Linked DNA regions of Homo sapiens. The protein of the gene in region 2 interacts with the protein of the main gene of each other region in a pairwise test. Each region holds a gene or a part of one and is shown on either strand. Other genes may lie near its edges. The genes, in order: GLRX3 and HEPH.

The links.
Region 1: the proteins of HEPH (region 2) and GLRX3 interact in binary tests that used the Homo sapiens proteins (3 or more experiments, as listed by UniProt).

The regions. Positions count from the first base shown.
Region 1 is NC_000010.11:130,169,469-130,185,306, reverse strand, and holds the end of GLRX3 (glutaredoxin-3), read right to left. Parts: coding exon 15,817-15,838; intron 13,724-15,816; coding exon 13,671-13,723; intron 10,441-13,670; coding exon 10,401-10,440; intron 10,311-10,400; coding exon 10,218-10,310; intron 5,966-10,217; coding exon 5,915-5,965; 3' UTR 5,635-5,914; downstream 1-5,634. UniProt on the Homo sapiens protein: Together with BOLA2, acts as a cytosolic iron-sulfur (Fe-S) cluster assembly factor that facilitates [2Fe-2S] cluster insertion into a subset of cytosolic proteins.
Region 2 is NC_000023.11:66,155,638-66,173,379, forward strand, and holds the start of HEPH (hephaestin isoform a precursor), read left to right. Parts: upstream 1-8,609; 5' UTR 8,610-8,833; intron 8,834-12,112; exon of another isoform or gene 12,113-12,156; intron 12,157-14,895; coding exon of another isoform or gene 14,896-14,933; coding exon 14,934-15,100; intron 15,101-15,489; exon of another isoform or gene 15,490-15,631; intron 15,632-15,791; exon of another isoform or gene 15,792-15,867; intron 15,868-16,717; coding exon 16,718-16,962; intron 16,963-17,742. UniProt on the Homo sapiens protein: Plasma membrane ferroxidase that mediates the extracellular conversion of ferrous/Fe(2+) iron into its ferric/Fe(3+) form.

The DNA.
Region 1 (15,838 bases), on a different chromosome or scaffold from region 2:
CATGCAGTTTCTCTTGGGTTTTTATTTCTGAAGGCTCCTGTGTCACCTAAGTCTTTACATACATTTTATACTTTTCCTTGGTAATCTATTCTAGGTGTTGGCTGTGCCCCTTGTGATGGGTGAGGAAAGGCATCCTCCTTTCTGCCCCTACAGACAGGTGACAGGGCTCTCTGAGGGCATCCAAGCTCCTTCTGGCTTTTCTCCATTATATCGGGGCTCTTCCTTTTAAGCACAAAACATAATACAAGAGCATAAAAATCTATTTTAATTCTTTTAGAAATTACCACACATGCCTTCTTCCTAAATAGACAGCTCCCATATCCAGGTTACAAGCTTGGGCTCAACGACACGGCTAGGGGTTAAGGAACTCGCTCCTGGGGACAGCAGGCTGGGAGATGAGGGGCAGAGAAACCCTTACCTTACCACATGGCAGGCATCCCCCGGGCAACCCTGAACAAGGGCAGGCTCTCTCTCTAGGAGTTCATATGGAAATCTGTAACTTCCTCAAATAAAACTTGACTTTTTGAGAAAAGATGAACACTGTACCACTGACAACCATTTAGATGAATGACCGTGGGGAGAACAAGAAGGTCTTTTTCAGTCAGAATTTGCGGGTCCTGGCAATTAGGTTTTTTTGTTTTTTTTTTTTTTTCTGAGACAGGCTCTTATTTTGTCACCCAAGCTGGGGTGCAATGGCACGATCACTGCAGCCTTGACCTCCTGGGCTCAAGCAATCCTCCCATCTCAGCTCCCCAAGTAGCTGGGACTACAGGTGCACACCACCATGACCAGTTAATTTTTTATTTTTTGTAGATATGAGGTTTCGCCATGTTGCTCAGGCTGGTCTCAAGCTCCGGAGCTCAAGCAACCCGCCTGCCTCCGCCTCCCAAAGTGCTGGGATTACAAGCACGAGCCATTGTGCCCAGCCTGGCACTTAATTTGTGAAAGCCACACCATTTCTAACAGGAACATAAAAATACCAGGTCATTTCAGAAGCCCCAGACTTGGGCAACTCCACTCACTAACTTGCAGCGTGCTACCTCAAAGCCAGTGTGGCACGAGGCTTCAAGCACAGCACTGGGGCTGCGCTGACAGATCCTGGTTCAAATCCCAGCTCCCAGCCCTAGAACCTTACAGTGACCTAAGTGCACCAAGACTCCCTCAACGTGTTCTGCTGCAGCCAGTGAGTCAGTGCACGTGCCCGGCCCATGAGCTAACTGAACTCATGGCTTCTGAATCTGAATGTCTCTAAATATCAGACAAAGCTGTATGAAAAAAGCCCCCAAGACTCTGAAACCAGATGGGATGCCAGTTATAAAACTTGTCTTTAAAGTTACCCATCCTGGTGAATGAGGCATCAGGAAGCTACTGCAGCTTGTGTCTGATTCAGAAAGGTGGATACCTTTCCTCACCCATCACAAGGGGCACAGCCGACACTCCTATAACAAAAGAGATTAACAAGAGAAAAGCGTAAGATTTATTTAAGTCTTACGTGACACAGGAGCCTTCAGAAATGAAGACCCAAAGACTCAAGAGAAACTGTCCATATTTACGCTGATTCAACGATCAGTGGACGGCCGTGAGGAAATGTGACTAGACAAAAAGGGAAGGGTCTAGGTCCTCAAACTCAACATCTGAAATGTGTATAAAACAAGAATTCATCTGCAAATAATCAACTTACTTTTATTTAGAAAGGTTTGAATTTTGAAAAGTAGCAACTGTCAAATTTAAGAAAACTGATCTTAGGTCAGGCATGGTGGCTAGGGCCTGTAATCCCAACACTTTGGGAGGCTGAGGTGGGAGGATCACTTGAGCCCAGGAGATTGAGACCAGCCTGGGCAACATAGTGAGACTTCATCTCTACAAAAAAAAAAAATCAAAACACAGCCGGGCATGGTGGCACATGCCTGTCATCTCAGCTACTGAGGAGGCTGACGGGGGAGGATCTTGAGCCTGGGAGGTCAAGGATGCCGTGAGCCATGACTGCACCACTGCACTCCAGCCTGGGTGACAGAGGAGACCCTGTCTCAAAAAACAAAGGAAAAGAAAGCTGATTTTACTTTAAAAACTAAACCAGAAATCATGTTTCATATTGCAATCTTAAGCTTGTAACTTTTGACTGTCAAGATAGGTCTTATTTGTATAATTCTTTCCAATAAGGCAGATAATGATTACCAAGCGCTTAAAATGTATTACAGTTGTTTCAGAGATTAAACATTTTTAAGTTATTAAAATGAGGCTTTCTAATTATAAAAACATGCTATTTTTTAGTCTACTCCTCAGCAGACTTAAGACATTTTTGTAAAGAACGGAAATGGCAAATAACTTTTTTCCTTCCTTCTTAATGATCAATCCAGTGGGACCAAGGTGGACTTCCTGATGGTTCTGCAAGGCTCAGTGTTCAACAAAAAAAGGCAAAAACATGTAAGTCACACGTGGGCAAGGCAACTGAACCCACCAGGTCCTGTTATTTTATTAAGGAGCATTTACATTATGATAGCAAGTTTCAACACATTCATCAACAAGGCGGTCTTCAAATCAATCAGTCAACCCCCGGAGTTAGAAAGTAGAGTCATGAGGAAGAGCTGCTTGGCTGTAGGAAGTAGGGTTAATGCCCTCTAATCCCCGGAAAGGGGCAGACTGAAGCCAGAGCCAGAATCCTGGCAATTCACCAGTTTCTCATCACAGGTAAAAAGGCAACTGCATCCCACATAGCTCTGAGGGGGAGGCCTCCCGGGAGGGGCAAGCCTAAGGTTTGGGTGTCCCAGACCCTGGATGGAAGCCCCAGCTCCCAATCTGTAGCTGTGCCCTTGAGATAGCTGCTTTCTCCCCTCACCTGCAAAGGAGAATTCCACAAACTACCTAGCCTGTTTCACTGGTTTTTTTCTTTCCATTTTTGATCAAGAGTTTTTATTTTAAAAAAAAGTTCATTCCTGCAGGCTTATTTCCCCTAAACAGATAACAATTCCCTAAGAAGCCTTCCTACAAGGAAGGCACAAACACGCAAGTCAAGAGGAGTGAACAGCCCTGCCTGTATGAGGGCCTTTCTGGTTCCTATTCAACCAGCCTCTTCTAGAAAGGAAATTCTGACATTTGAGGTTTGGTTTCTAAGAGTTAACAGGCAAATAGATGGCAGCCCCCATCATCAAGAGCCTCCCCACAGCACCAGCTCTATCCTAAGCACCATGCAGCTTTAACCTGGCAGGATGCCACACAAAGCCCCACTACATACTCAAAAGAGCAGGCCAAGAAAGGGAGGGCAGGCAGAGCTGGCCACAGGCTCTGGCCAGGGTCCACGCTCCCAAAAACGCAGCAGTGCTTCTCGGAACAGAAATGTGTCCAGACATGAAAACCCTCCATACAAAGCCTGCCTGGAGGGTCCCTCCCACCACAAGCACCCAACGAGGCCTCACGTGTGGGACAACATCCAAATGACACATTGTCACCTTTCCTTGTGAACTGAACAGATTTCTCAAATTCAGAAAACAACTTTGTCTCTAGAATTTGGGGATCAGAGAGGATTTCAATTCTGATAAAACATTTCTACAAGAGCAGGCTCAATTATAAACCCATACGCAAACTCTCTTTTTGTTAGAAAATTCAATAGGGGAAGTTCAGCTGGGCTCAAGAATCTTACTTTACTTCCTAAAATACACTAATAAAATCAGATTAGGAATGGCCATCAATCCGTTTGCATGAACAAGATGTCTTGACCTTCCCCATGTCTGGCCAGAAACAACTAGAAAATAGAAATATGCTGCACTGTCACCCCAACTTACCTGGAGTCAGTGGAGCCAAAGACCATCAGACTTTAAGAGGATAAAATAATATAGGACACAGGGGCAACTCCCCAAAAACTCTCAACACTCATCCTGACTCAAACCAGGATGGCTCAACAAAGGATAACGTCACTGATATCTTATGTCCTGCAGGAGTCAACCAAAGGGAAAGGAGGTCTTCCTAAAATGCACTAACCACATGACATTATCAGAGCAACGGCCTCTGGCCAGAACAGTATTTCCCAAATTGGAGGCAGCCATTTATGTTAAAAGTTGTGCATTTTATTTATTTGTATGTGCATTAGAAAAAAACAGGCTTACTGAGTCTGTGATGCCAAAGATATTCTTGCTTAGGATAAAGTGAAAGTAAAAGTTGACTTAGAAAATATACTAGGACAGTTGGCACTTAGAGAAAAAGCAGTATGCAAATGAATTAAGTTTGAGATAAGTATACCAAAAAAGTATGGAGCCCTCCTCCATGACACACATCCCTGCGGCCAATGGCTTCATAAAATTTCAGTAAAAATTCTATTTCTATCTACATTTAAGAAGTTTTACTTATACAATGATTTTCATTTTAAATAGAAACAAGGAAGTTCTCATGGACCAATGCTATAAACAGCCTTATCTAATTACACAGAATGCCAAGAGACTCCACCATCATGGGTGTCCTAACACCTAGCAGGAAGCAAGGCCATGTCGAGCTTTATGACTTGTACAGACCACCCTCTGTAACACACAAATCAGCACTCTACTCTTTACACAATCAAAACAGAGAAAAACAGCCTGAGCTGAAGAGACAGCAGCAGTGTGGAGGTGGTGGGCTAATCTTACCTAGGAATAGATGCATTTCATCCTGTTTATTCTTGTCTGAATTACTGACTTCTGTTTCCCTTTCCTTATCGCCACCAGACAGTACCAGCATCTTAACTGCCCAAACAAACAGGGTGGGGTAATATATGAAGAGAATGTGCCACAAGTACAAAAAAAACTAAGAACCATGAGGTGAATTTAGCCATCCCATTTGAAGCCTGCACTGTGGAAGCCTAGTGGAGCAACTATTTTTCAAATATGTTAGATTCAGGATCAAAAATATTGTTAAAATTTTCATGGACTTCAAACTGTTCTCAATAGGAGGACCAAAGGAACCTGAACGACCAAATCAATGTTTATTATAAGTAAGTGGACCAAGTGTGGTGGTCCTACCTGTAAATTCCAGCACTTTGGGAGGCTGAGGCAGGAGACCTCATCTCTACAAGAAATAAAAAATTAGGTGGGCATGGTGGTGCACGCCTGTGGTCCCAGCTACTCAGAAGGCTGAGGCAGGAGGATCGCTTGGCCCCGAGAAGTCGAGGCTGCAATGAGCCATAATCGTGCCACTGCACTCCAGCCTGGGTGACAGAGCCAGACCCCGTCTGAAAAAAAAAAAAAAGTAGTGATGCTTACAACAAATGACAATACTTTTCCATTCTTTGTCATGACTACCCATTCTTCTAGACCTTATGAAAAAAGTGCTTGTTGTACCATATTCAATGAGAAATCATTTTCCTCTTAAATGTTTCTTGATAATTCACTACTGGTGCCTTGTGAAATGAGTCTCTAAACCTGCAGACATCCTACACTGCCTCTGCAATGTAACCAGTGCCGAGCTCAGCAATGACATCAGAAACTAATTTCCGTTGTTTTTCCTAAGCTGTAAAGAGATCTTTCACCAGCGAGGGGAGCCATTGTGTTGGCAAAGGAGTTGTCCTAAATACTGTTGTGTACTGCATTCCGCCACAGTTCTCCATTTTCTGAAGACTGCCTTTCTTAACTGCTAGAAGATACTCATGTACTAAGAAAAAGAGATTTAAGGTGGGTTAATTATAGTAGCTGTATGTTTAATACTGCTGTAAAGATACACTTTTTTCATACAATTATTGTTAATAATTTGAAGATGTTTATTGCATTCTATTTTTGGTGGGAAAAAAATGTAACATACATTTATTTAGCACGACATTGTGAAATACACAAAACATGTAACTGAGAAAGCAGGAATTTTCTATTCCTAGTCCATTTCTGAGGACTAAATCATGAACTGCTCCCAATGTAATTAAATATTTCTTACAATAGTTGGGCACCAAGTTTAAGATTTATTAATTTTCTCCTCTCAGTATAGGCAGCAATTCACCATTTTCTTTCAGTTCCTAAAAATAAAAAACAACAATAATAATATGTATATGCATATATAAAAAGATGGAAACATCTAAACAATCACAGCTTGTATGTATATCTGAGAACCAAAAGAAACACCTATTGGATTAAAACTCCAGTCTCTTAACACTCTCAAACTAAATGAGCCATAAACCCTGAATACACTATCAGGTTAAAAAATTTAACAAGGTATTCTTGGCCAGGTGTGGTGGCTCACAAATGTAATCCCAGCACTTTGGGAGGCCGAGGTGGGCAGATCACTTGAGGCCAGGAGTTCAAGACCAGCCTGACCAACATGGTGAAATCTGTCTCTTAAAAAATAAATAAATAAGGCTGGGTGCAGTGGCTCATGCCTGTAATCCCAGCACGTTGGGAGGCCGAGGAGGGCAGATCACCTGAGGTCAGGAGTTGCAGAACAGCCTGGCCAACATGGTGAAACCCCGTCTCTACTAAAAATACAAAAATCAGTTGGGCATGGTGGCGGGCACCTGTAATCCCAGCTACTCAGGAGGCTGAGACAGGGAGAATCTCCTGAACCCGGGAGGTGGAGATTGTAGTGAGCCAAGATCGTGCCATTGCACTCCAGCCTGGGCTAGAGCGAGACTCCATCTCATTCATTCATTCATAAATAAATAAATGAAGTTAAGGTATCCTAAAACCAACAGATTGTTTAGTATTAGGAAACGCAGCAACTGGAGCCAATGAAGCCCCTATTTAAACTGTAGCAATAAATAAGGAAAATAAATCAAGTGACTTTCAAGGTTGAAGAATGAAGTAATGTGGCTGGGCGCAGTGGCTCACACCTATAATCCCAGCACTTTAAGAGGCCAAGGGGGCAGATCACTTGAAGTCAGGAGTTCAAGCCCAGCCTGGCCAACATGACAAAACCCATCTCTATTAAAAAAAAAATTAGCCAGGTGGGCATGGTGGCATGTGCCTGTAATTCTAGCTACTTAGGAGGCTGAGGCATGAAAATTGCTTGAACCCAGAAGGTGGAGGGTGCAGTGACCCAAGAGCCAAGATTGCACCACTGCACTCCAGCCTGGGTGACAGAGTGAGACTCTGTCTCGAAAAAAAGGAAGAAAAAAAAAGCAGTGTGACGTTAAAAGTCTACTCAAATATGATGCTTGTTCCCCTCCCGTTCTTCCACTCACAGAGAGGAATCAGGCTTTGCTATTGAAACCCAACCTGGCAACACATCTCTGCCTCAGGAAAAGCTAGAGTACCAGTAAGAGGGAAAGGCAGAAACCATTAAAAAGACCTAACAATTCAGAAACAGACATGGCATCAAAAGAGCTACCACCAGGTTGACTGGAACTGCAGTACAGGCGCCATGCTCCTTGTGCCTGTTTTTCAGATTTAAAATCTGGATTATAGACACCAAGCTTGAAAGGACAGACATGATAAATAAGATTTTCTGGTTTAAAGAAACATTTAGTATGATATAACATTTCAGGTTATCACTGAACAGCATAAACATCAATCAATAAAACCATTAAAATCCGTATGACCTCCTCTGGATGAAATTCAAATAGGAATGATGCTGTCACACAAAACCCAGACGGCTTTCAGTCATGTCTAGGGATCTTCTTCTACCTACTCAACAAGCAGACACCCTGCCCCTCCAAGGGACCCAGCAGGACTTTTCTGAGCACACACTCAAGAAGGCACGGAGAGGACCACGCAGCTGAGTGGGCAAGGGCAGGTGGCCCTCAGGTGGAATCTGGACTCAATGGCTTACTAGTTATGGGATGGTGGACAATTCACCTGACCTCTCTATGTCTCTGTTTCCTCATCTACTGACTAAGAAGAATTCTGCTCTCTGAGGCTGCTTGGGAGATTACGTGAAGCAGCCTCTTAAAGCACCAAAGCAGTGTGCCTGGAACATTGGGAGCGCGCCAAATAAGGCAGTCCTCGCCACCCTCACTGCTGTTAATGCGAGCCGGCAGGTGGAAAGTCTAAACCTAACCAAATCTTCTATCTCTCTCAACAAACTGTCTTAAGTCCAAACATTCTGGAACAGCAGTAGTGAACCGTTTACTCTTCAGAGGCAATAACAACTCACAATTTTCTCAGGACACTAGATTAGCTGAGTAACTAAATCATCATTCAGTCCCTCATTCAACAAAACAAACGCTCATTGCTCCAAAGAGGCCAGCCAGATTAGACCATTTCAAACATCTTTTAATTGAACTGAACATGAAGAACTGCATTCTGCAAGAAACAGATCAAAATGGGATCGTAAGATCTATTCCATATATCTTCTCAAGGAAAAACGTTAACAATATCACACATTTCAAACGTATATGTTCTTAGCAGGTGAACATAAAAAATCATATAACACTCTGTTATATAACTAAAAAGAAGTTACCCACGCAGCTTAGCTTTAGAATTAAATGAGATTTATTGATTGTATCTTCCCAAGAGTTACCAATGGCTAAGGTACAGGCTATAAAACATTCAGACAAGAACAGGCTCAAGAGTATTTGGGGTTTGAGTATTCTTTGTGTCTTACAAAAATAAGACTATATATATATATATAGAGAGAGAGAGAGAGAGAAAGAGGGAGGGAGGGAGGGAGGGAAGGAGGGAGGGAGGGAAGAAACAAATGCAGATCTGTTTCTGCTGCTTCAGGGCTATTCAAGAGCAATAGTCTTAAAAATTTTTTCCTCCAGGAGTGAGACCATTCCCCAGGAAAAATGTCTCACTGGCTTGTTTAAGAAGTATGATATCAAACCTGGAACTCCACAGGAAACAAAACCTACACAGAGGCCACCAAAGGACAAAAAGAGCCTCTGCATCAATGGAACTCAAGCTTTGTTTTTATAAAACATATTGGTCCAAAGTGCTGATGTCATTTCAGTGGTAGGCTAGTGCTTCACTTTACAAAAGCACGTGTTAAAAACTTTTATTTTGGCCAGGCGCGGTGACTCATGCCTGTAATCCCAGCACTTTGGGAGGCCAAGGTGGGCGGATCACCTGGGGTCAGCAGTTCAAGACCAGCCTGGCCAACATGGTGAAACCCCATCTCTACTAAAAATACAAAAATTAGTGGGGCGTGGTGGCGGGTGCCTGTAATCCCAGCTACTCAGGAGGCTGAGGCAGGAGAATCACATGAACCTGGGAGGCAGAGGCTGCAGTGAGCCGAGATTGCACCATTGCACTCCAGTGGGGAACAAGAGCGAAACTCTCTCAAAAAAAAATGTAAAAAAAAAAAAAAAACTTTTATTTTACAACATAACTAGAAGTAGTACTACTTGCTATTTGTTTTCCACATAAAAAGTCGAAGATCTGACCTCAGAAAATTCTCTCATGGATTGAGGCAAGAGGAAGGCCTGAGGGCAGTCAGCAACCCACTTTTCGGGGCAGTTTTGTTCATGCCCCTGAGCAGACCCTGGCATTCCTGCCCAGCATTCCTGTCTAGCTCCTCTCTATACCCAACCAGCTACCACCCTCCTCGATGCCACCATGCCCACAGTGGGCCTGGGGTGCAGTGGGGTCTGTGTGTAGATATTAAAGCTACAGCTTCTGTTTATTGTTTTGGGCTAATCAAAGAGCTACAGAGCACACAGGTGTTAGTTGGTGGGCCTGCCCTGAATTCTAGACATTAAATACATGCAAAGTAACGTCCATTTAAAACTCAATCAAGAAGTAAAGTCACTTATCCATCCAACAACCATTTACTGAACTCCTAAAATACACAAAGCATCAGGAAGGACTCAAGATACATAAGAAATGGTGTCTTATCTAAAACACAATCTAACAGATAACAGATTTCCAAGCATCTCAAAACCAAAAAGGACCTACATTTTTTCTTTCGGGGGACCAGGGGCAGTGATCCTCAGCCTCTGTGGCAAGGATGGGCAGCACCGGGCCACAGGCCTCACACTGCTGTCACTCCATGCACCCAAGGGCAGATGAGTAAGGCAAGAAAAAACAATTTGTTGTCTGGGAGCTGAAGCAGGATCTAACAAGGACCCTGAGTGACAGGGAAGATCACCCCACAGAAAGGAGATGCAATGGTTAGCTCAGGTGTGAAAGTAAGAACAGGCTGCCACGTGGGGACAGTGAGAATGGCAGGGTAGTCATGCACACAGAAACGGTGATACTGGTCTAGAAATGTCTGAGAGTCAGGCTGGAAACAGGAGTCAAAAACAACTCTCAAGTTTCCATTCAATATGAAATCATTTTTAAACATACCAAAATCTTTTCCGTTCTTTAGAACAGCAGAAGAACTGGCCTTACCTTCACAATATCCAATCCTCCCACCAGCTCCCCTTTCACATACAGCTGAGGGTATGTTGGCCAATTTGAGTAAGCTTTTAATCCTTGCCGAACCTAAAGAAACAACAGGAATCCTGAAACCATCCTATCAGGCCCTTAAGATTAAAGCTAAGACAAGGGTGAAACATCAAACACAGAACTTACTTCTTCATCCTCCAATATATCGAATGTTTCATATTCAACACTGCAAAAAAGAGAAGACATTTTAACTGGAAATACAGTTAAATCAAAGTGTAAAACCTCTATGCATTTGATGTTTTTAAAATAATCAAGAAAACCGTTTCACTGCTAACAAAATGTACTACAGACCAATGGAAATGATTTTACTTCTTAATCTGTCTGGTACTACACAGAATTAGTCATTCCAACATATGACTTTATCTGGATTTTTCTCCGGACAATATTGGGTTAGACCAGGGGTGGGCAAACTTCTTCTTAAAGAGTCAGACACTAAACACTTCAGGCTTTACAGGCCAGACAGTCTCTGCTGCAACTGCTCAGTTCTGCTCTCTGCTGCAACTGTCAGCATAAAAGCAGCCACAGACAATGTATAAATGAAGGGATGTGGCTATGTGCCAATATAACTTTATTTACAAAAATGGGCAGCCAGCTGCAACTTGCCAACCCCTGGATCAGACCCACACCCCCATCTGCACGAGCCTTCATTAACTGAACACTCTTACCCACTTCTAATGTCTAACCCACCCCAGGCTGCTGCTTCTTAACCTCCTGGAAGCTGCCCGTGCAGCAGGATGTAGTAGTGCTCGTGGACGGAGGCTGGAGGGCTCAGCAGCCGGATAACAACCACGCTGCCAGCTCCCTCCACCTTAGCAAGAGACATGCTTTCCACACTTAAACTTATTTCAGAGAGGGTGCTGTTTTTAATGTACAAAAGGCCAATGAAAGCTTTGTGGCTTTATACCATACAATGAACATTACTTGTACAAAAAATGAAAAATCACTGCATGAATATCCAACTGTATCCACTCAGAGCGATTTCACCGTTAGGTGGTCAGGTATTAGCAAGCATGTATGCCTAAATCCTTGCAGGGTGCCTGAGGGTACAGGTGCAATTCCCAAAGGTGGCCAAAGAAAATGCTACATGTAAAAAAAACTGGACTTTCCATAAAACTGAAACCATCATAGGGAAATCTTGTTTATTTAGTAAACAAGTTCCCAAGGAAACTGTCTATGGTACAGGGAACAGTCAAAAAAACTAAATGACGGGATAAATCAGAAGCAATTACCAAAAAAGGAATGTTTGAAAGAAGAACAAAAAAAGACCCCAATGTAAACCTAATGCTTTTTAAAAACCCCAATGTAAGTCTTTGTTCAAGTTGAACTAAAGGTGGCAGATCTCTTAATACTGTGATAAAAACAATGAGTTATACAACTATTCATAAAGGATCCAGGAAGCACTGGGCCCAAGTGTATGTATGTGGAGTCCTAACAGCCAGTATACTTCCTAAAAGTTATTCATAAAGGGTACCTTTCAAACCTCAATATACACTTGGTTCTCAACCACTCATGCATGTGTATTTTGGCTACTAAAGGAAAAGATAAGAAATGAGAAAAAGTAAAAAGGAGTTTTCTCCACATACATTTGGCGCCCAGCAAGAGCATGGTCTGCTCGTGTTAAGCGAAGCTGAGGTCCTGGATGGCCTCACTCATCCTAGGGCCAATCACGCTTAGCAAGTCCAGAGCTGGGAGGTCATGCTCTCCCAAAGCATCCTCCTGCTCTCTGCGACAACAGGGTGCTTTCAATACAATGGAGATTAGACAGATATGGGACAGAAAGCCAAGTTACCAAGATGTTCCACCAAAGACACGAGCTGAGTCAGGCCCAGTGTGTCGGCTCAGAAGACACCTGAGGAACCTGGTACTGCTAGAGAGGGATGGACTGTGTGTGTCTCACTGTGGACCCGCAGCAGAGGGTCGACAAAGAAAGGGGAAAATCAAAAATGACCAAAAACAAGCCAGCCCCCACTGTATGGCCCAGGGCAGGGGTGAAGAAAGGAACAGGCTTGAAGTTACAATTACAATAAACTGACTATACTTGCTTCTATAAAATGTCATAGTAATCTAAAGACGACAACCACATCTTTTTTTTGAGACAGAGTCTCACTGTCACCCAGGTTGGAGTGCAGTGGCGTGGTTTCAGCTCACTGAAACCTCCACCTCCTGGGCTCAAGTGATTCTCCAGGCCTCAGCCTCCTGAGTGGCTGGGATTATAGGCGTGCGCCACCGCACCCGGCTAATTTTTGTATTTTTAGTAGAGGCGGGGTTTCACCATGTTCGCCAAGCTGGTCTCGAACTCCTGACCTCAAGTGATCCACTCACCTCAGCCTCCCAAAGTGCTGGGATTACAGGTGTGAGCCACTGTGCCTGGCCCTATATTCTTTTTATGTCCCTGAAATTGTATTCAACCTGTACTATTTAACTATTTTCAATAGATCTTTGAAGTATATCAAAGATTACTTGAAAGTAATTTATTTGAAGCTACAGTTAGAATACATGATTTTTAAAAGATACAATCATGAAATGAGAAATAAACAAAAATATCTGACAAACCCTATAGAACATGTGCTGTATATCTCCAAATAAGTGCTTTTGTTTTTAACCACAAAAATCAATGGCAATGTTCTTACCTGACAGCTTCACCACTGAGCACATCAAAACTAGGAGCACTGCAATTTAACTTGTGCTACCTCTCAGATCCAGGTAATGGACCTTAATATGTGCCCCTCAGCTTTCTGTACTGTTTAGCAACTAGGATATTTGAGAAAAATTAAAAACTACCTATAATATATTCCCCTGAAATATCTTTATGCATGGTGAGGACTCAGTTATACATTTTCCTCTGGGAAAGTAGACAAATAGTTATTCCAAAGGTGGCCTAAAGACCTCCTTTATGTTACTAATAGGTTGACACTGGCCAGAAAATACTATTTTGATCTAAGTTAAGGCATTCACAAAACAATACAGCAAAAAATAAAGAAAGATACAGATATGTATGGATATAGACATTACAACTGAAAAGTATCAGTGGCAGAACTGAAAAGTTGAAATATTTTTTTCTTTTTTTTGAGACAGGGTCTTGCTCTGTCACCCAGGCTGAGTGCAGTGGTGCAATCACGGCTCACTACAGCCTCACCTTCCAAGACTCCAGTGATCCTCCCACCTCAGTCTCTCAAGTAGCTAGGACCATAGATGTATGTGACCATGCCTGGCTAATTTTTTTATTTTTTGTGGCGATGGGGTCTCACTATGTTGTCCAGGCTGGTCTCGAACACCTGGGCTCAAGCAATATTCCTGTCTTAGCCTCCCAAAGTGCTAGGATTATAGACGTGAGCCACTACGCCTGGCCAGGTTGGAATTTTTTTAATACACCATTTGAAAACAACATTTACATACCCAGTACTATTTAGTATTTCCAGAATTTGTTTGCTGAATCCACATTTTGCTTCCTAAATGAAAAAAAATTTGCAAAGATTACAATTTTTGTATGACCCAAGCAGCATGGTTGTACCTAATACTCTTGTCAACCAGCACAGCACTTGTCCAGCATAGCTGCCACTACTTTCACTCAGCTCCCAGAGCTTCTGCTCATCCCCTCTTCAAGTACGAACCCATCTACACATCAACCCAGGCACACGTGACCCACAGACTTCCTTTTCCTTTGGTTTGTAACCACTTGAGATGACATGTGTTCCAACAGTTTATATTCTCTGTGGTCAAAAAGTTCCTCTAAGTGAAACCGAGATTTTCTACAGAGATTTGAGTTCATTGTTTAATTCACTCATGCAAAATGATCTTAACTCACTTAGCCTTTTTGCAATGATTATGACAATTATTTTCCCATTTCCAACTGGATTCTGACTCCCATTTTTCTTTTTATTTTATTTATTTATTTATTTATTTATTTATTTTTTGAGACAGAGTCTCACTCTGTCCCCAGGCTGGAGTGTGATCTCGGCTCACTGCAATGTCCACCTCCCAGGTTCAAGCGATTCTCCTGCCTCAGCCTCCCGAGTAGCTGGGACTATAGGCATGCGCCACCACGCCCAGCAAACTTTTTGTATTTTTAGTAAAGATGGGGTTTCACCATGTTAGCCAGGATGGTCTCGATCTCTTGACCTCGGACCTGCCTTGGCCTCCCAAAGTGCTGGGATTACAGGCATGAGCTACCGCATCCAGCCTCATTTATTTTTACATTACAGAATACTAACACTTTTTTGAGTTTATGAAAATCTTAAGCTTTTTTCATGCCACAGGACTCCAAATTCCAGCAATCTTGTGGAAAAGATATGGTACCATGTCAACATTTTAATAGCCCCAATAACATTGTTTCCAAAATGTATTAATACTTTCTAGGTTTCCAGAAAAAAATAGTTTTGAGAATAAATATCCACTTAAACCATTACCGAGAATAAGAAAAAATGTCACTTTATCATTACTAGGAATTATTAACTTCCTCTATTGTTTCAATACACTGAACCAAAATCAAAGAATTTAGGCCCTAACCTAATGTTTCCAACATGCTGAAATTTATATTAACATTTTCTTTGTTACTGTTACTTTCATTATTACCTAATTATATTAACCAGTTATGTTAACTAATTAGCTTCATTATACTAGTTATGTTAACTTATACACTAGTTATGGCAACCAGAGTCTGCCCTGTGAAGTATTGTGTCCCTTTCCCAATGAGCAAAGTGGTTCTCCATGTCACTTGCCCGGTGCATCTTGCTAACAAGTGAGGCAGTTTCTTTATTCCAACAGCCTCACCTTTCAAAACTTTGGTTTCTTTATCTCTAAAACAGGCCAAAGTCTGTCCAACCCTGCCTACTTCAACAACTGATTGAGAATTAAGTAGAGGTTCAATTGCTATGAAAATTACAAAATATGATATAAATGTGTATGGCTGGTTTCTGGAAATTACCACTCTGATCTCAATCTGAAAGAAAATTAGTTCTGCTCAAACTATCGGTGGAAGTAATCTATCAAACTTGATATTCAAAATGACGCATAATCAATATGTACTTACATCAAAAAGCTGTAAGAACCATCCCATTAAAAATGAGAATTGCTGACCATTTCACTCATTCATCAAACACACAGAGCACACCTGCTACAGCCAGGGTTTGCTCCTCCACTGTCACAAAAGGACGATCTAGGGGTGCAAACCCAAGCACGACCAGGTTCCCTGCATTCAGGAAGTCCACTGACTCAGCTGCACACTTCAGCAGTCCACAAACTCAAACAAAGGATAATGACATAACAACTCATACAACCAGTAAAGTGTTAACAGTGTTGACCACATTAGCTGACAAAGTTTGGCAGCAGAAAGAAATGCACCCCACTGAGATGTTGATGATAAAGTCAAGCAAAATGTAGATTACTTTGTTTGATCTCCGTAAGCACCAATTAAGGCGTGGATAACTTCCTGATATCGCTACAGCTTCATTAGCTAAAGCTAGGAAAAAGATTTAACTGTCCCCTTGTTGCAGATGTTAACATCAAAAGAAATTACAAATAAAACCATTTTTGAGTTCTTTACCTGTTTGTTTCCTTTCATAAAG
Region 2 (17,742 bases):
TTTCCTTGTTTATTGCTCATCTTTCCACTTTACTTACGTTTTTGTGTACAGAACTATTCCATTTTACATTTATATGGCCCTTTTAGTTGATCTTCAGGACAACCTGTGAAGTTAACAAGCAAGATGGTTTTATCCTCATTTTATAGGACTCTAAATTGTAGAGAGATTTTTTAAAAAAAATCCTGTCCAATAACAAGCAGCTAGTGTGTGTCAATAGCAGGACTCAGAGTTAGGTCTGTTGACCCCTGTGTTAGTTTCCTATTGCTACTATAATAAATTAGTAAAAACCTGGTTTCTTAAAATAACATATGTTTATTTATTTGGGTTTTTTCTTCAACTTTATTTTAAGTTCAGGGGTACATATGCAGGATGTGCAGGTTTGTTACATTGGTACATGGTGGTCTGCTGCACAGATCATCCAATCACTTAGGTATTAAGCCCAGAATCCATTGACTATTCTTCCTGATGCTCTTCCTCCCCCTACCCGTCCCTACCTCCTCCAACAGGCCCCAGTATGTGTTGTTTCCCTCCCATGTGTCCATGTAACAGCATGTATTTTTTATCTTATAGTTTTAATAGGTTAGAAGTCTAAAATGGGTCTCACTGTGGTTACTTCTGGAGTATCCAGGGACAATCTATTTACTTGACTTTTCTAGCTTCTAGAGACCTAAATTCCCCACTTCATGGCCCTCTTCCTCTATCTTCAAAGCTAGAAACAGTGAATTGAGTACTTCTCATACTTCATTACTCCAACCTTCTCTCCTATTTCTCTCTTCTACTTTAAATAACCTTTGTAATGATACTGGACCTACCCAGACAATCCAGGATACTCTTTCCATTTTAAGAACAGCTGATTATTAATGTTAATTTCCCTTTGCTATGTAATATAACACATTCACATGTTCCAGGGATTGGAACATGAACATTTTTGGGAGAGGCGTTATTCTGTCTACCTCAACCCTCAATCCACTGTCTTTTTCACTTAACAGACTAACAAGTAGCCAGAGGAGTAGTAGGGCTAAGATCAATAGGTTTGGAAAGTAGGGTTGAGAAGGGACACAACTGCCACTACCTAGGATATACCTTTTATTGTGTTCACATTTCTTAGAAGAGCAGTTGTATTTTAAGAATGTCTGGGTGTTCTGTATATGAACAGAGTCAGGGTTTGAAATTGCACACAATTCATTTTTTCATAATGGTGAACTTTCCATAGAGTCTCTCATGCAAACACAGAGTCTGTAAGTTGTGATCAGACACTTATGCATGCCTTCTGGATGTCTGTGGGTTCTAATCCAAAAGCCTGAGTCACAGAACCTTGAAATATGAGAGCTGAAAGGGACCTCAAAGGCCAGCTAACACAAGGCTCTTATTTTCCATGTGAGAGGACTGAAGTCCAAAGAAGGGAAATAGCCTACTCCAGGTAACACATAGGTTTGTGGCAGAGAGGACTGGAATGAAGTCCTCACTATTGTGCCCAATTATATCAAACTAAGTTGTCATTTTGGAGAGGAAGCATGGGATTTTTTTAGTCCCTTAAATAATATCATGAACATGATCACTTCCTTCAACCAGTGATTAGGCCAGCCATCATAGAAGCATTTTCTAACACGGTTCTGTGGGGATGAAGAAAGTATTGGGCATGACAACAAAGAAAAATGGGGTTCGAAAGTCAGAACTGCATTGTAGGTGCCCAAGGAAAAAAAACACTCTCCAAAAGACAGCTACTTCTTTTGCTGTGAGAGGAGGGCGAGACGGCACTAACTGGCATTTTTGCTGAGGAGTTCTAAATTCACTAGAAAAAGGAACCAATGAACAGAAGGTAGAAGGCAGCATATATTTGGCTATTTAATATGGGAAAAGATAATCTAGAGTTGCCTTGAGAGATAATTGAGTGAGTTCTCAGTTATTACATGTATCCAAGCAAGAGTTCATATAGCCATTTGGAAATGATGCTGTGGATATATTTGGGAGTTTTCAAGTTAATTTTACCAAAATTTATTCCTTCAAATGAAAGGCTATGTGGCTGCATTTACCCATTTAATGTGTATCCATTCTATTAAATGGATAAATGAAGCCTTCTGAAGAGCCCTATGAGGCAACATAATTTGAAAGCAAATGACAACCATGCCTTCTGAGGCTTCATTTTGTTCACTATTCTTCTAACCCAAGGTAACCAAGGATAATTTGGGGGTTAGGTGCTTAGAGGAATAGGACTGGGCCAGTGGATGGATTGATTGGAAAAGTACAGGGGTTGGTAGTGACATACACACAGTCCTTTTAGAAACAAACTTGGTCAAACAATGGAACTGTCAGGTACAATCAAGTCAACCTTTTAACTAGAAAAGCCTCAAGTCATCTTCTGAAATGTGAAGTTAACACGCACTTTTTTTTCTAGTAGGATCTTGCTGACCTTGAAGGTCAGCTCTAAGGCTGCTGTCTTATTCTTTCACTAATCATTCATGTATTCATTCATCCAGCAAATATTTATTGAGCACCAACTCTGTATCAAGTGCTGTGCTAGGCATTGAGGCTACAGTAGGGAGCAAGAAAAATGTAATCCCTGACCCCACAGAGCTTCCATTATACGGTGAGGAGAGAGTTAAGCAAACAATTTCAACAAATTGTTGTTAGATGTACGGGGTGACTTGGGAGCACATCACAGGAGGACCTCACCCAGAAGCATAGAAAGTCAGGGAAAACCTCTTAGAGGAAGGGACTTCTAAACTGAGACCCAAAAAATGAGTGGGTGAATGAATAGGTGAAAAAGTGATTGAGGCAGATGAAACAACATATCAGAATCTGTTGGAGGGAAGAGAGAGCACCATGCACATTGGAAACTGACAAACTGACAGACCTCTGGCATGGGTGGGACGCATTGAGTGTGAGGAGAGGAAGGGCAAGCAGTGACCTAGAAAGATTAGGAAGGGCTGGGCCATAAAAATGCCATATAGGCCATGTTAAGAAGTTTGATCTTTATCCTAGTGAAATAATAAGGAATTAATTTTCTTAATGTAACAGATATGAGTTTCTTGAGAGAATAGAAATACAAAGAAGACAACAAAAGTGGCTTCATATTCACTTTCCAAGTGACCTTTTTTTAAAAACAAAAGTAACTAATATATAAGGCTTGAAAATCTAAACAGTTCAAAACGAAAAATGAAAGTCACGCTTCCCCCAACCAAGTTACTCTCCCCAAGGAAAACCACCATTAAGAATATTTTGTGTTATTTCCAGAAGAAATATTCATTGTCCCCTCATGTAAGTATGTATATATGTGTGTGTGTGTGTGTGTGTGTGTGGAGATATCTATATCTCTATGTATGACCAATCACAATATGCTCACTCTTTTGCACCTTGCTTTTTATTTAATGACATATATTGAAAATATTTTCATATGTGCATTCACACACACACACACACACACACATATACGAAATATTTCATCAGTTTGAGTGTCATCCTTACTAGAGAGTCTTACTAATATCATTATTATTCCAACTTTAGTCAATAAGGGAGGCATTGCTGGGGGATTTTAAGCAATAAGGATTTACAACCACTTTTGTGTTATGGGAAAAATAGCTTTGACTGTTATTTGAAGACCAGATTATGGGGGGTCAAGAGTGGAGTCATAAAGAATTATAAGGAGGCTATTACGCTGGTCCAATTAAAAGATTATGGTGACTTAGACCAAGTCCATGGCGGTGGAGATAGAGAGAAGTGGGTGCATTGAGAAAAAGATGTAAAATATAAATATGACAGGACATATCAATGAAATGGTTGTAGAGAGTGAGAGAGAAGAGAGTAATCTCAGATGACATTCAAGTCTCTGGCTTGGTATATAGGAATGAGAATGCTAATTATGTCATGCAGTCGTTCAGGAGGCTTATTCTGAATGATATTCACCCATTGAAAATATCCTCTCCCTACTCTAAAATGTTATATCACATTGTAGAGACCTCTATTCTCTTACTTACTATGTCTATTTATAGTAATGAAACATTTTATTTGTACATTGTTTTAGCCTTCTTACATGCTATGTACTCCTTAGTAGTGTGGCTGGAAGTAGGCAGGTATGAGGAAAATAGAGGAAGAAAAAAAAAGACTAACATTTACTGATCATTTACTATGTAACAGGTGTTACACAGGGCCATTTTTCAGACATTGCATTTTATTTTCACAGCCTGATTTTACAAATAACAAAATGGAGGCTCAGAGCACTCAAGTGACTTCCCCAAGATCATACATTTTAGGGAGAGACAGAGCTAAGATTCAAACCAAGTTTGTCCATGCCCAGGGCCCACCATCAGGAAGCCAAATGAGAAAGTATAGAAGAGTTGGGAGGAACAGCTGATGCCATGTATAGAGCTGCTCCAGGCAGGCAACAGAGAGGAAAGCATGTTAATTGCACAGGGAGAGGAGAGGAAGCTTCACCCAGGCAAGCAGAAAGATTCTTGGGCAAAGGGAGTGGGGAAATAGGTGTTGGGAGGACTCTCAGGGAGACGCCACATGAATGAGGTACCAGGAAGCTGAATAAAATATATTTTTGACCTAGGGCCAAAGAGTGAATACTCAAAGACCAGGTGAGTCTGGAGCTAAAGAATCAGTCTGCAGATGCAAGTAAGCTGGTGGTGGTGGGAGGTTGGGGGGTGAGCTTCAGAGCAAGCATCCCTTACAGCAGTGGTCCTCAAACCAGCAGTGGTCCTCAAACCAGCAGCAGCAGCATCCCCTGGGAACTTGCCAGAAATGCAAGTTCCTGGGCCTCACCCAAGACTTACTGAAGCAAAAACTCAATGCCTTAACAAATCCTATAAGGGATTCTGGTACATGTTCAAGTTTGAGGCCTACAGCCTTGGAGGACTAGGGAAAGCAGCAAGTGGAGTTCAAGAGCCAGAGTACAAGAACCAAACAGTGTACCCAGAGCAAGCCTAGGGCTGTCACACATCACAGCAATGCAGAGCAACCTTTCCAAAGCATAACAGAGTCTGCTGGTCAGAAGTGGTGGTGGGGAGTGGCTTCAGAGATGTGGTTTCTGGGGGACAACCCCCTCTTCCCTGCACCCCTCCACCTTTCCCCAGAGGTCTTCTTTTTAAGAAACTGCTAAGGGCAAGCTCATCAGAGGATCCTGAGGTAAAGGGGTTAGACTGTCTGTGCCAAGGCACTGCCCATGGCTTTTAATTTTCTCCTGGTACCTGATACTGTCACAAAATTTAACTGTGGAAAATATAGGAAGGAAAACAACATTTACTGGGGGTCTGAACATGCTGAGCACTGTGCTAAGGGTTCACACAAATGCCAGCTGATTTAATCCTCACAATATTTCAGTCATGGAAGTGTTATTATTCCTGTTCTGCAGATGAGGGACCAGAGGCTCGAAAAAGTTAAGTGATTTGCCCGAGGTCACATAGCTCAGAAAAAGGCAGCCAAGATACAATCCTTAGTCTTTCTGACTCCAAATGCCATGCTTCTCACCCTAGACCATGTTGACTCTAATGTGAAGGTCCCTGGGGTCCTCTCCTCTTTGTAGCCACCCCAGGGCCATGTGTTATTGATGGCCCATAGATGAGTAACCTGGAAATATTGGTTGAATGAATAAACGAAAAGATGTTCTAGTGACAGAGTTTAACACATGAAGGACCCTTAAGGATATTCTGGTCTTACGGTTTTCCAATCTGTTTTTAGTGTCCTAGACATTTCTTACTGGTGCTCCAGACACAATCACATTGTCTAGGAAACCAGTCATACCCAGTGGACAGGTTCCTCTGTCTCTTCACCCTTGCCCATTTCTATCTCCTTCCCTGCCTTACCTAGAACAAATCACTTTCATCTTCCATAAGTAGTGGGTGTTTACTAAGATTCTGTTTGGGGAAAGGGTTCTGCTGCCAAAATTAATTTTGAGAAACCCAAATCTAGACCACCTTTTTCATGTTATAGGTGAAGAAACTGAGTGATAGAAAGGCAAAAAGACTTGTCCAGGGTCACTGTGTGCTCTTTAGTAGCATAACTAGAATGTGAAGCCAGGATTCTTGAAACATTCTTCTTTTTTGACACAAGTTAATACAGTTTGTGTCCTAACGAGGAAATAATTATTTAGATTTCAACAATTATTTAGAATTGAAAAATTAAAAATTATAACTCTAATTTTTGCCTTTACTATGTTCCAGTTATTGTGCTAAATAGTTAATACGTATAGCCTTATTTAAGTTCTTATAACAGTCTTATAAAATAGGTAATATTATTATCTCCATTTGAAAACTGAGGTTTAGGGGGATTAAATTACTTTAATCATAGAATCAGGAAATGGCAGAGTTGGGATTTCAGTTCAGAATATCTGATTTCAGTTTTCATGCTCTTAACAGTGATGCCATATTGCAAATGTCTATATTGAAAAAAAAGTCTATTTAGCCTGCTGCTTGTTTTGTAAATTAATTTTTATTGGCACAATGATATACCTTGAGAGCTACAAAGACAAATTTGTGTAGTTATGGCAAACAGAAACTGTATGCTCTGGAAATAAATGATTTAGTAGCTAGCCCTTTATAGAAAAAATCTGCCAACCTCTGGTCTGTAGACACCAACTTTAAAATGTTTTTCAAGTGACCTCCAGGAGAAGGAACCAGAAATGTACCCCGGATTTGCAGAAAAGGTGGGTGCTGTTTGTACTCTCAGTGAAATTGGTGAATGAATAATACAAACCTGGAAACCTGGCCTACCTGGCCTCCTGCAGTCTTCACTGTGTTGATTCAAGTCTATTATGACCTGTTCTTGTTGTCTTTCATGAGTCAGAGCAGAGGCCTTATCCCTTCCCCTCCCTGTCATAAATGCCTTAGAGCTTGGACTTGGATCTCAGCTTAATCAGTTTTGTCTCCACTTCCCCTTTCTTGCTTCAAGGTTCACATGTGTGCGAGGCAGATAATTCTAGGGGCTGCCATGGCTTGGCTAAGCTTCCCTTGACCACTGAGCATTTCTAAGGGAGTTGAGGCTGGTGGCTCCTCCTTCCTTCCTACTGGTGCTTCCACCTGCCTTGGTCTGAGTTGCAGTCCATGGGGCAGCGCCTAAGTGTCTGAGCACACTTAAGAATCTCTAGTGGTTTATGACCCAGACTTTGCCCTACCACCTCAGTCTTCTGAATGTTCTCTTCCCTGGACCCTGCTCCAGACACTTTAAATTCAGAAGAGGAAAATGTGCCCAGCCTGCCTGGAGAAAAGTGTCTGCTCCTAGCCAAGATCTCCTCATCACAAAGTAAGAATATCAGGTGGTGGAACCCCCATCATACCTGTCCCCTTCCTATACCTGGGTCTGTTGGGTAGATGCAGTCCTTTTTAGAGAGGCATAGTATTCTCAGACCTGTCGCCACAAATTGCTCCCCACTCATTCTTTCCCTATACTTTGTGTCTTTGAAACCTCTTTATCTTCTATGTTTAATATCTAGACTATACTTTCTTCATGGAATTCTAGATGTGTAAATTTACAGGGCTGGGAGGGTCCATATCTAGTTTAAGACCCTCATTGTAGAAATAGAAAGAGGCCCAGAGAAGAGAAGGGAGTGGGCCAAATCCACAAAATCCACATAGCTGATTACTCCTAGAGCAAGTGGGGCGAGAACCTTGGTCACTTGACTCAGGACAGTGACTTTTCACTCTTCTCTCTTTCCACCAGGAATGGGAATGACCTTTGACTTTAAACAAATCCAGACTCCAGTTTTACCCTGAATTGTTGGGGGAACATTTTGTTTTTTTTTTCTTTTTAGTATTTTCAATTCTTCCATGTCTTAGTTTTTAGGGTGTTGACCTGTGTTAATCCAGGCTATCTTCTAGCTATATCTGGTTTCCTCAGGTGGAAAATGTTAAATATAGTTAATATAAAATTTCACTCTAGAATCTGCTAGAAATGACGGAGGCAAAGTTAATGTATATATAAAAAAATCCACCAGTGACTGGTGGCCAGTAGGCTTTCAATAATTGTGAAGTCCCTTCTACCCCCTTGAAAGTACTGTGTTTCTCCCCTAAGCAGCACATTGTGTGTGGTGGTTTCATGGTTAAAAGTTTAGACAGACCCAGCAAATCTCTCTTCTCTTTTACTTCCTAAGTGTGTGACCTTGGACAAGTTACCTTCCCTCTCAGAGCTGAATTTTCCTCAGTTGTAAAATAGAGAGAATTAGAGTATTCATCTCACAGGATAATTGTGAGACTTAAATAAGAGAATGCATGTAAAATGGTTAACATAGGGCTTAGAATGTAGAAAAAAAGTCCTTTGTTTTATTGCCAATTTTATTTTTACTTATGACTAAGCAGCCATGACCTCAGAATAATAGTCAGGGCTGACAATTGTGCTTCAGAGCAAGAAGGGGAAGAGGTGGTGAGATGGAGGCTCTTTCAATTTCTACCTCATTTCTTAAATGGAGCTGTTGAAATCTACCCATGAGCTTTGGCTGGCCACACTGACAGTGTTCTCCTCTCAGCAAAGACCAATTAGCAAGTCCTGATAACAGAAGTACAACCCACCCCCTTGTAATTCCTCCTGAGATCCTAACCAGGATTTGTAAAACACCCGGATATGGGTAAAGAACCATCCCGGGTTTTGTATCAAACCAGGCCCCAGAGGAACAGGACATTCCAGTAGTTTTGTTTCTGGAAAAGAGGGCACCCAGCCCTTCCCCCTCCCTCATCCTCCCATCCCAGTAAACCCTGCCAAATTGGAATCCTGGACTTAATTTAGGAGAAAGGCCCTGTAACCAAGATACTGACTGAACATGGCTGGCGGACTCAGGCTGGGGTCTGCAGTGCAGCATTAATGGGCCGCTGACATGAATATGGAGTAGTTTTCTCTAGCAAAGGTAAGCTTTCTTTTCTCTCTTTTCAAACTCTACCTCACCTGCCTTCCTGTGCAAAAACGTTTATTTAGCTGGGTTTAAGGGAGTCCTGGCCACTAGGAGAAAAAGTCAGTGGCCAAAAAGTTGGAGGAGGTTTGGCTGATGTGCAGGAAAGTTAAAGGAGACAATAGGCTCCTTTTGTTCCTCTCGCCAAAATAGCCAGGACTACACTGGCTTGTCTGTTTCAGGGCCAATCCTGGAGCCATACAGAATAGTTCATTTTCCTGTCGAAATAGCTTGCTCATCTTCTGTTTCACAGGTTGAGGAATTTATTGAGGTGATGGATCTGAGGATTATGTAAGTGGGAACTCAGTTACTTAAAAATAACCATGTTTGGTTTCATATTTTGAGACCAGATTGGCACAGAGTAAGCCAATAAATGATAGCTTAACTAAGCTAAACATCTGAATTTGAGTAGTCTTAGTTTCTACATAGCAAAAATCTTTTAGAAATCATTGGTTCAAATTCTGGCTATTTTTAACAACTGGCTGCGTGACTTTGAGCAAATCCTTGCACCTCTCTGGTATCAGTTTTTTATACATCAAATGAGGGTGATTGAAAAAGATGGTTTCTAAAGGTTTCATGCATGTGTGAATCTATAACACGTTCAGTTTTTCATTACTCAGCATCTATTATATGACAAGCAATCCTTTTGCTAGGGACTCAAATATCCATGGTTTTATTTGGGCCTCAAGACAATCCTGTGAAAAAAATATCATCCCATTTTTTGGATGAGATGACTAAGGCTAAAATAATTTATTGAAAGGTCACATAGCTATCACAGACAAGAGATAGGATTTGAATCAAGGTCTTTAACTTCAAATCGGTATGTTTTCTATCACAGAGTTAAGAAAGCAGAGGACCAAAAGGTGAATTTTGATGGAGGGTTTATTAGGAAGGCTGCTGAGAGATTGAAGACAGGGCCCCAAAGATGGCTCAGCATTCCTTTATTCAGTTGAGTAATCCTTTGTTTAGGATGAGCCTGTCTAGCCCAAAGTAGTATAACTGAGAAAGGGAGATGGAGGGAGAGAAAAGAGCATTGTCGCAATAAAGGAACAGTTTGCAAATTCTAGGGAACACAGCAATGCAAATTGTTATGAATAATAGGGACCAGACCCAGGTGACACTGGGATGGCAGGAAGGTAAGGTAAAGGTAAGGGAGGCTTAACTTTATATTGGCTGATCTTCTCTCCAGGTTGGCACAAGGTTTCAGTATATCTTAACTAAACTATCCAAATAGCCTAGAATTTTTCTTTCTTTTTTCCTTCCTTTGAGTGCCTATTCCTTCTGCCTTCCTTTTTATTTTGTATTTTTTACTTTTTTCCAGGATTCTTTCTCAACTTACTTATTTCATTTCTCCTTTTATTTCTTCCTGTTCTTTTTCCTCATCAGTCTGGTTCTTCTCTATGGGCTTAGCTGAGAAAAAAAATATCCTTGCCCAAGTGAAAAGCTTACACAGGGCTTTCACATCTTTCATATTATTTGACCTTTATTACAAACTAATGAGGGGCCCAAAGTAGAGACAATCCTCATTTAAGACATGAGGAAACTGAGGCTCAGGAAGTTAGGGACTTGTTCAAGGTTATATAACCAATAAATGATGAATCCAGAGCTAGAACTTACTATTTTCTGGTGCCTGAACGCTTTCCACTGTACCATGAAATATCTAAGTGGTTATATTTTATTTTATTTATTTATTTTTTGAGACCCGTGTTTCACTCTTGTTGCCCAGGCTGGAGTGCAATGGTGCGATTTCGGCTCACCACAACCTCCGCCTCCCAGGTTCAAGCGATTCTCCTGCCTCAGCCTCCCGAGTAGCTGGGATTACAGGCATGCACCACCATGCCCAGCTAATTTTTTGTATTTTTAATAGAGATAGGGTTTCTCCATATTGGTCAGGCTGGTCTTGAACTCCCGATCTCAGGTGATCCACCCACCTCGGCCTCCCAAAGTGCTGGCATTACAGGCGTGAGCCACTGTGCCTGGCCTAACATCTAAGTGGTTATAAAGGATTTTATGGGTTTTTCATTTTTTCTGCTCTTTTAGTATATGATAAAACCAAATTAAACAGCAGCAATAACAATGACAAATTCAAATTTGAGGAGGATAGAAAGGATGTCAATAATTAGAAGGAAGAAAAATACTTATCAGGTGCCTACTAAGTCCCAGCTGCTGCAAAAATTTATCTTATTTAGATATAGAGTAAAACAGTACTTAAACCTAAGTTTGTCTGACTCAAAAGTTCTAGTTCTTTACATTATACCATGTTGTTTCCAAGAAGAGAGTTCAGCTTGGGCTGTGTGCATTTTCATACCTATGTTTATATTCCTGTATGCTTAGAATGTGTTACCATATATGGGAATTTATGAGTGTGCACATATTTATTGCTATTCATAAAATGGAAAATCTTTATGGCCCTGGCAAGTTTCATTTCCAAACTATTTCCTTACTTGCAATAGTAATAGCCACTAATACCTTTTGATCACTTACATGTGCCCTTAAAGTACTTACAGATCTTAATTAAGTTAATCCCCACAAAACTCTATGAGGTAGCTAATAGTATTAATACCATTTGAAAAATAAAGACACTGTGGCTAAATAAATGAAGAAGTTTCCCAAGTCATACAGCTAGGAAAAATGGAGCCAAGATTCACTTAGGTAGCCTGATACCAAAGCCTGTGCCCTGGATGCAAAATCGAGTAAGTATTCCTTATCTCTCAAGATCTTGAGAATTATATAAGATGGCAGATATGAAAAACACATTGTAATCTGGAAACTGCTAGGGGTATGTTAGGTGGCATTTCCCACCACTCCCCAGATTCTATTGTTTAAGCCATTTGGATCATAAGTCACCACTGTTGAATGCTTGTTCACTGTATGCTGATGGCCTGTACTAGTCTCTCCCAGGAATATTTTCAGTTTTATCATGTGTTTCTCCAGTTGTGGAGCTCTTGCCTGGGACAGTTTTCTGTCTAGGTAAATGAGTTCAAGGCACAACTGCTTTGTTGACACCTCTCTGAGAAAGAAGATTGAAAGGGGTCCATGTTGCATTCAGACTTGGAATGAACCGAGGACACTCCCTCCCTGTTGAGGATTCCAAGGCATGACTATTTGTGTGACCATATATAGAGCTATGTGTAGGTGTATGTGAGTACGCCTGTGTTTCATCAGTGAATGTAAGTATTGGCAGCATGTGAAAGCTGGAAGGACTCTTTGAGAGCTCATTACATACCACATTTTTATGGTTCTGCACTTAGATTATCACACTTCTGTGACTCCCTCAAAAGGTAAGAACTATATAGTCCAGCTTTATATAGTCAATTATTTTATAGATGGGAAAAATGAGGTGAAGAAACTTGCCTAAGTTCACCCTGAACAAGTATTAGAACTTGAACCAGACCCAACTGATGGAAAAATGTATACTTGTGCTTCTTTATGTCACTTTAACAATAGCTGTTATTGCCCATCTACTTGGCCTCCATCGCCATGTCGTAATAGATACACAGCGACCTCTAAAAAATGACATTCTCTCTCAAGGAGTGTGTAGTCCAATCTGGGAAATGAAGACAGTTCATGAGGCAGGTCATGAGATGGAAAGGTAACAATAATACAGAGTCTGACTTAATCTAATTGGGTGCTATAGACAGTAAGTAGCCCTGCAGAGGACAGTGATATGAAGAGGCTAAAGGTGGCCTTCTGGAGCAGTTAGTATTCAAATTAACCCTTGGAGTAGGAATATAGAAAGTATGATGGATGTGAGACTGTAGAGATGAATTAACAAACTGCAGCCAGGAGGGAAAAGGAAGAGGAAGGCAACCAGTAGTTACTACTGCCTACTATGTTCCAAACATGGATTATACTTGTCCGTTTCATGTAAGCTTTCTGATTTATTTCTCCAGGGCTGATATTATTATACCCATTTTACAGATGAGAAAACTGGTTCTGAGTGGTTAAGTAATCCCCAAGGCTACACAGCTGGTCAGTGGGAGAGCCAGGTTTTGGAAAAAAGGACCCCAAAACAGATCCTCTCTTACATCAAGAGCTTTCTGCCAAATATAATATGGAATCTAGGGATTAACACTTGGGTCACTGCTGCGTATGGAGAGGACTGAGAGTTTGTGAAGTAGTCTATAAGTTTATTTCTTAAAAAGGGTAAATATCTGGGGATTTTCTATCCATATGTGAATCTGTGCATATATTTGATTCTCAATTTTTTATTAACAATGCCTATTTCATATGCTTGGGTTGAAGATTTAGCGAAATAATTTATATAAAGCACTGGACATGGTGCTACTATGTAATGATCTGTCAGTGAATAGTAGCCATTATCATCATTATCATTAATATAATCTATTAGTTATATCTCTGCCTACATGAGTATGTATGTCTGTTTGTAAAGTGATTATAACTGCATGTAATTGCTTGTTTCAGAATGTATGTGTTTTTTCATAGATATGGCTGTTGCTATAGGCATATGTATGTTCTCTGTGTATATACATGTGAGTGTGCAAGTATATTTTTGTGGAAGGTAGTACAGCATGGTGATTATGCTGGAGCCACACTTCCTGGGCTCAAATCCCAACTCTACCGATTTTTATCTAGATGGCCTTGGGCAAACTGCTTTACACCTCTCTTCTGAAGTTTCTCCATTGTAATATGGGGATAATAATGGTGTCTACTTCATAGGGTGGTTGTGAGGAATAAATGATTTAATCTGTGTAAAACATTTGGAACAGATGTACCATGCACATACGATAAATATAGCTTTATTATTATTATTCTGAAGTTGACTAAGATTTTATATAACAGAGTGATTTTATGTGTAAATGGAAGTGTGTGCATCTCTGCTTTTAGGTAAGACTACATGTACCTGTGTGTGCAAGTTTATGTATTTATGTGATGTTGTCTGTGTTTCTGTGTTTGACTGTAACTGTGTATGGTATCACTGAGTGCTTCGTCCTAGTCCCAGGAAGTCTAACGTCCTGTCTTATGCATTGAAGTGAGAGGTTAGAATCTTGGGTCTGATTCTGACTCAGGATTAGACCTATGAAATGAATTTATGAATAGCCTTGGGAATCAGCAGACAACATTTCTTCTGAGAAGTTCAAAATACTTCCCTCACATACTGTCATTTATTTTTGGTTCATTGTTAACTTTTGAAGTATAATACACATAAAGTGCACAAATCGTGTTTATAGCTCAATGTATTTTCACAAACTGAACACGCTTTTACAACCAGCATGTAGATCACAAAACAGAGCATTACTTAGAAGCCCTCCTCTTCCCTTCCCAGTCACAGAATCCTACTTCAAGGCAAACATTATCCTTACTTCTACCAGCATAGATTACATTGGCCTGATTTTGTACTGTATTTAAATGAAATCATACAATATGTACTCTTTTGTGTCTATTTTTTTAAACATTACATTTGTCATAATCATTCATATTGTTGTGTGTAGTTGTAGTTTGTTCATTATTATTGCTATAAAGAATTTCATTTTATGAATAAAATGCAATGTATTCATTCATTATAGTGTTCACGAACATTTTGACTGTTTCTATTTTGGGTTTATGAATATTCTAGTAAATATTTTTTAGTAAATTCTCACTTGTTGTTAAGTACAATTTATAGAGGATAGGAAGTGGCAACAACAATGAGTGTTCCCCTTTTGCCTATGGGAAAAGAGAGGCAAAGGGAGAATTAGTGTTAGTGGCCCAATAAGGCTTCTGGTGCCTGTTTCCTGATTCTTGGGACAGAGCACATTCTTCCTGCTACACCATTGAAAAAACTGGATCCAGATCTCTCTTCTGAAGGAACTAGTAATACATGATTAGCAGCACGGGTGACTTTTTAACTATGCCCTTCAAAATCCAATCATTGAAAACTTATTGAATTAAAAGGAATCAGGTAAGTTAAAGAAACTGGGCTAAATGGGTTTTGCTTTCTCAGTCACTCAACCTGGCTCTTGCCTCTTCAGTTTTCTGGACACGTAGAAAGCCCCTTTGTTCTCTTTCTTCTACACCAGCAGTTTTTATTTGCCTGTTTCCCAGAGTAATGTGGGCCATGGAGTCAGGCCACCTCCTCTGGGCTCTGCTGTTCATGCAGTCCTTGTGGCCTCAACTGACTGATGGAGCCACTCGAGTCTACTACCTGGGCATCCGGGATGTGCAGTGGAACTATGCTCCCAAGGGAAGAAATGTCATCACGAACCAGCCTCTGGACAGTGACATGTAGGTTTAATTTCTTGTGGTATTTGAGGGGAAGTTATGGGAGCACTCTTGAGGTCAGGAAGTAGCCTCTTGAGGCCCCTTTCCCAGGGTGTGGTAGCAGCCAGCTCCTGATTGCTCCGAGCTGTACATACTCAGTGGCAGATTTCCTGGGAAGAAGGCTAGTTGAGTCAGAAGCCAGCATTTCATCTGGAGTTTGCCGTAACATTTTTAGAGTCCTAAAGAGAATTCCATATTTGCTGTTTTCTAATCTCATACCCACAATGCTTACTTATTTAATAACAACTGTTTGACTTTAAAAAAGAATAATGAAATATATACAGTGTTTGTAAGATGTATGGGTGGGAGCTATGCTTCTATAGTTTGGTGAAGCTACTGTATATTTATTTCAGATATGTGAAAATGTGAAAAAAGAAAGTAAGCCTTAGAATCAAGGAATTAATGGTAATAATTCTCACTTATGTAATACTCTGTGACACAGACCATACTAGAAATTTACATACTTTGTCTCAACTCTCACAAAAACTCTAGAAGGTAAGTATGTGTGTAGTTATTTTATAGATGAGAAAACTGAGGCTCAGAGAGGTCAAGTGACTTATCCAAGTCCTATAACTAGTAAATGAAAAAGATAGGATTTGAACCTCGATAATGAGAATGTAAACTAATACTCTTCTCACCACTCTGTCCCTCATAGATCCCACAGGATTAACCTTTCCTGATCTTAGAAAATAGCAAGTGCTCCACAAATATCTGTTAAAGAATAAATGAATGTACGAAAAACTATTTTGTGACCATGACTCATTTTTTTCTCTCCAAAGCTTTGGAGTTTTCCAAAGTTGATTGTAATATCTCTGAGTTCTCTGAGAAGAATTAGAGTATAGTAGGAATAACAACTCTGTCTTTTTTGACACAAAATATTCATCTAGTTTCAGAGTCAGAGTCCTTGTATTAATTTTTTTGAGGGAATAAATTCATTATCCTTCATCCCTAATACTTTGTAGTAATATTCCACATTTATTGAACTTTTACTATTTGCCACTGTCCTAAGCTCTTCGTGTATTTGAATTTTTTTTTTTTAGTCACCAGTAAAAGCTGTCTGAGTTAGGAACTATGATTATTTCCATTCCATTTTACAGATGGGCAAATTGTGTTCAGAGAAGTTAAGTAACTTGTTCAACATCCCACTAATTTGGAAGTGGCAGAGTCAGCAATCAATCCAAGTGGCTTGGCTCCAAAGCTTGGAGTTATAAGCACTATGCCCTAAGGCCTCCCATATGTATCAGAATGATGCTAAGTCAGGCTACATTGACGAGGAGTCGATCACTTAAGGAGTCAGTCCACAGTTGGTTGTCTCTTTGTTACTGCATATTGTGTCAAGCTATGTGAAATTGCCTTTTATGTGGGTTTAAAGTGGTCAAATATGAGCAATTTCATATGCTGATATTTGAAATTTTTAATAGTTAAATCTAAAACTTTCATGTTTTGATCAGTACAATGCCATTTCCTCTTGTTTTGTCCTAAACAAAGATAGTCACTTTTTGGTCAGTATCCTCTGGAAAAGGAACCTCTCAAGGCTTGAAGATGGGGGGCAAAATTATGACTCTTTTTCTTCTTTCCCAGAGTGGCTTCCAGCTTCTTAAAGTCTGACAAGAACCGGATAGGGGGAACCTACAAGAAGACCATCTATAAAGAATACAAGGATGACTCATACACAGATGAAGTGGCCCAGCCTGCCTGGTTGGGCTTCCTGGGGCCAGTGTTGCAGGCTGAAGTGGGGGATGTCATTCTTATTCACCTGAAGAATTTTGCCACTCGTCCCTATACCATCCACCCTCATGGTGTCTTCTACGAGAAGGACTCTGAAGGTAAACCATTCCACCGTTTCTTTCCCCCATGCCCAACAAATATCACTTTTCCTTTATTGCCAGGTGAAGGAGAAGAACTGGTAGTGAAGATTTTCTTTTCTTCCTATTTATCTGAGGTGGCAAAGACTCTCCTCAGAGTAAACAAGGGTGGGCACTGGTATCAGTTCTGCCATTCATATACTGTGTGACTTGGACGAGTCATTGTCTCTCTCTGGGTCTCAGATTCCTTCTCAGAAATGTGAAGACACAGTCTACCTCTTAACACAAGGAACTATTTGAATGGCATCTCCATAGAATATTTGAATATTCTATGAAAAGAAAAGAGAATGCTATAAATGTGAAGGATTGTCATCCTAGTGTCACAGTCTTCTGAAAGTTCCATTTTGTTTTTCCCTAAAGGGGAGTTCAGCTTATTTATCTCTATCTCCCTTATTCCTGGCCCAGTAATTTATAATACTGACAACAGTGAGTAAGAGGAATAGAAAGGGAAGTCAGAAGACTCTGGCTGGGCCACTAAATCCCTGTATGATCCTGGACAAGTTACTTTTCCTTAGTTTTCTCTTCCATACAATGGAGAAGTGAACCAATTAATCATTAAGTTGACTGCAGACTGAAATTCTGTGATTGCCTGCTTTTTTATTTTAAGTGAGTGTTTGAAGGGAGGGAATTCTGTCTTCTTGCTTCTATGCCACCAGCTTTATGCTATGGCATTACCAGATCAGGCCAAGCTGTACTTTTCCTAGCCACAGAACTTTTCCAGTGGCTACAAGCTTTCCACCC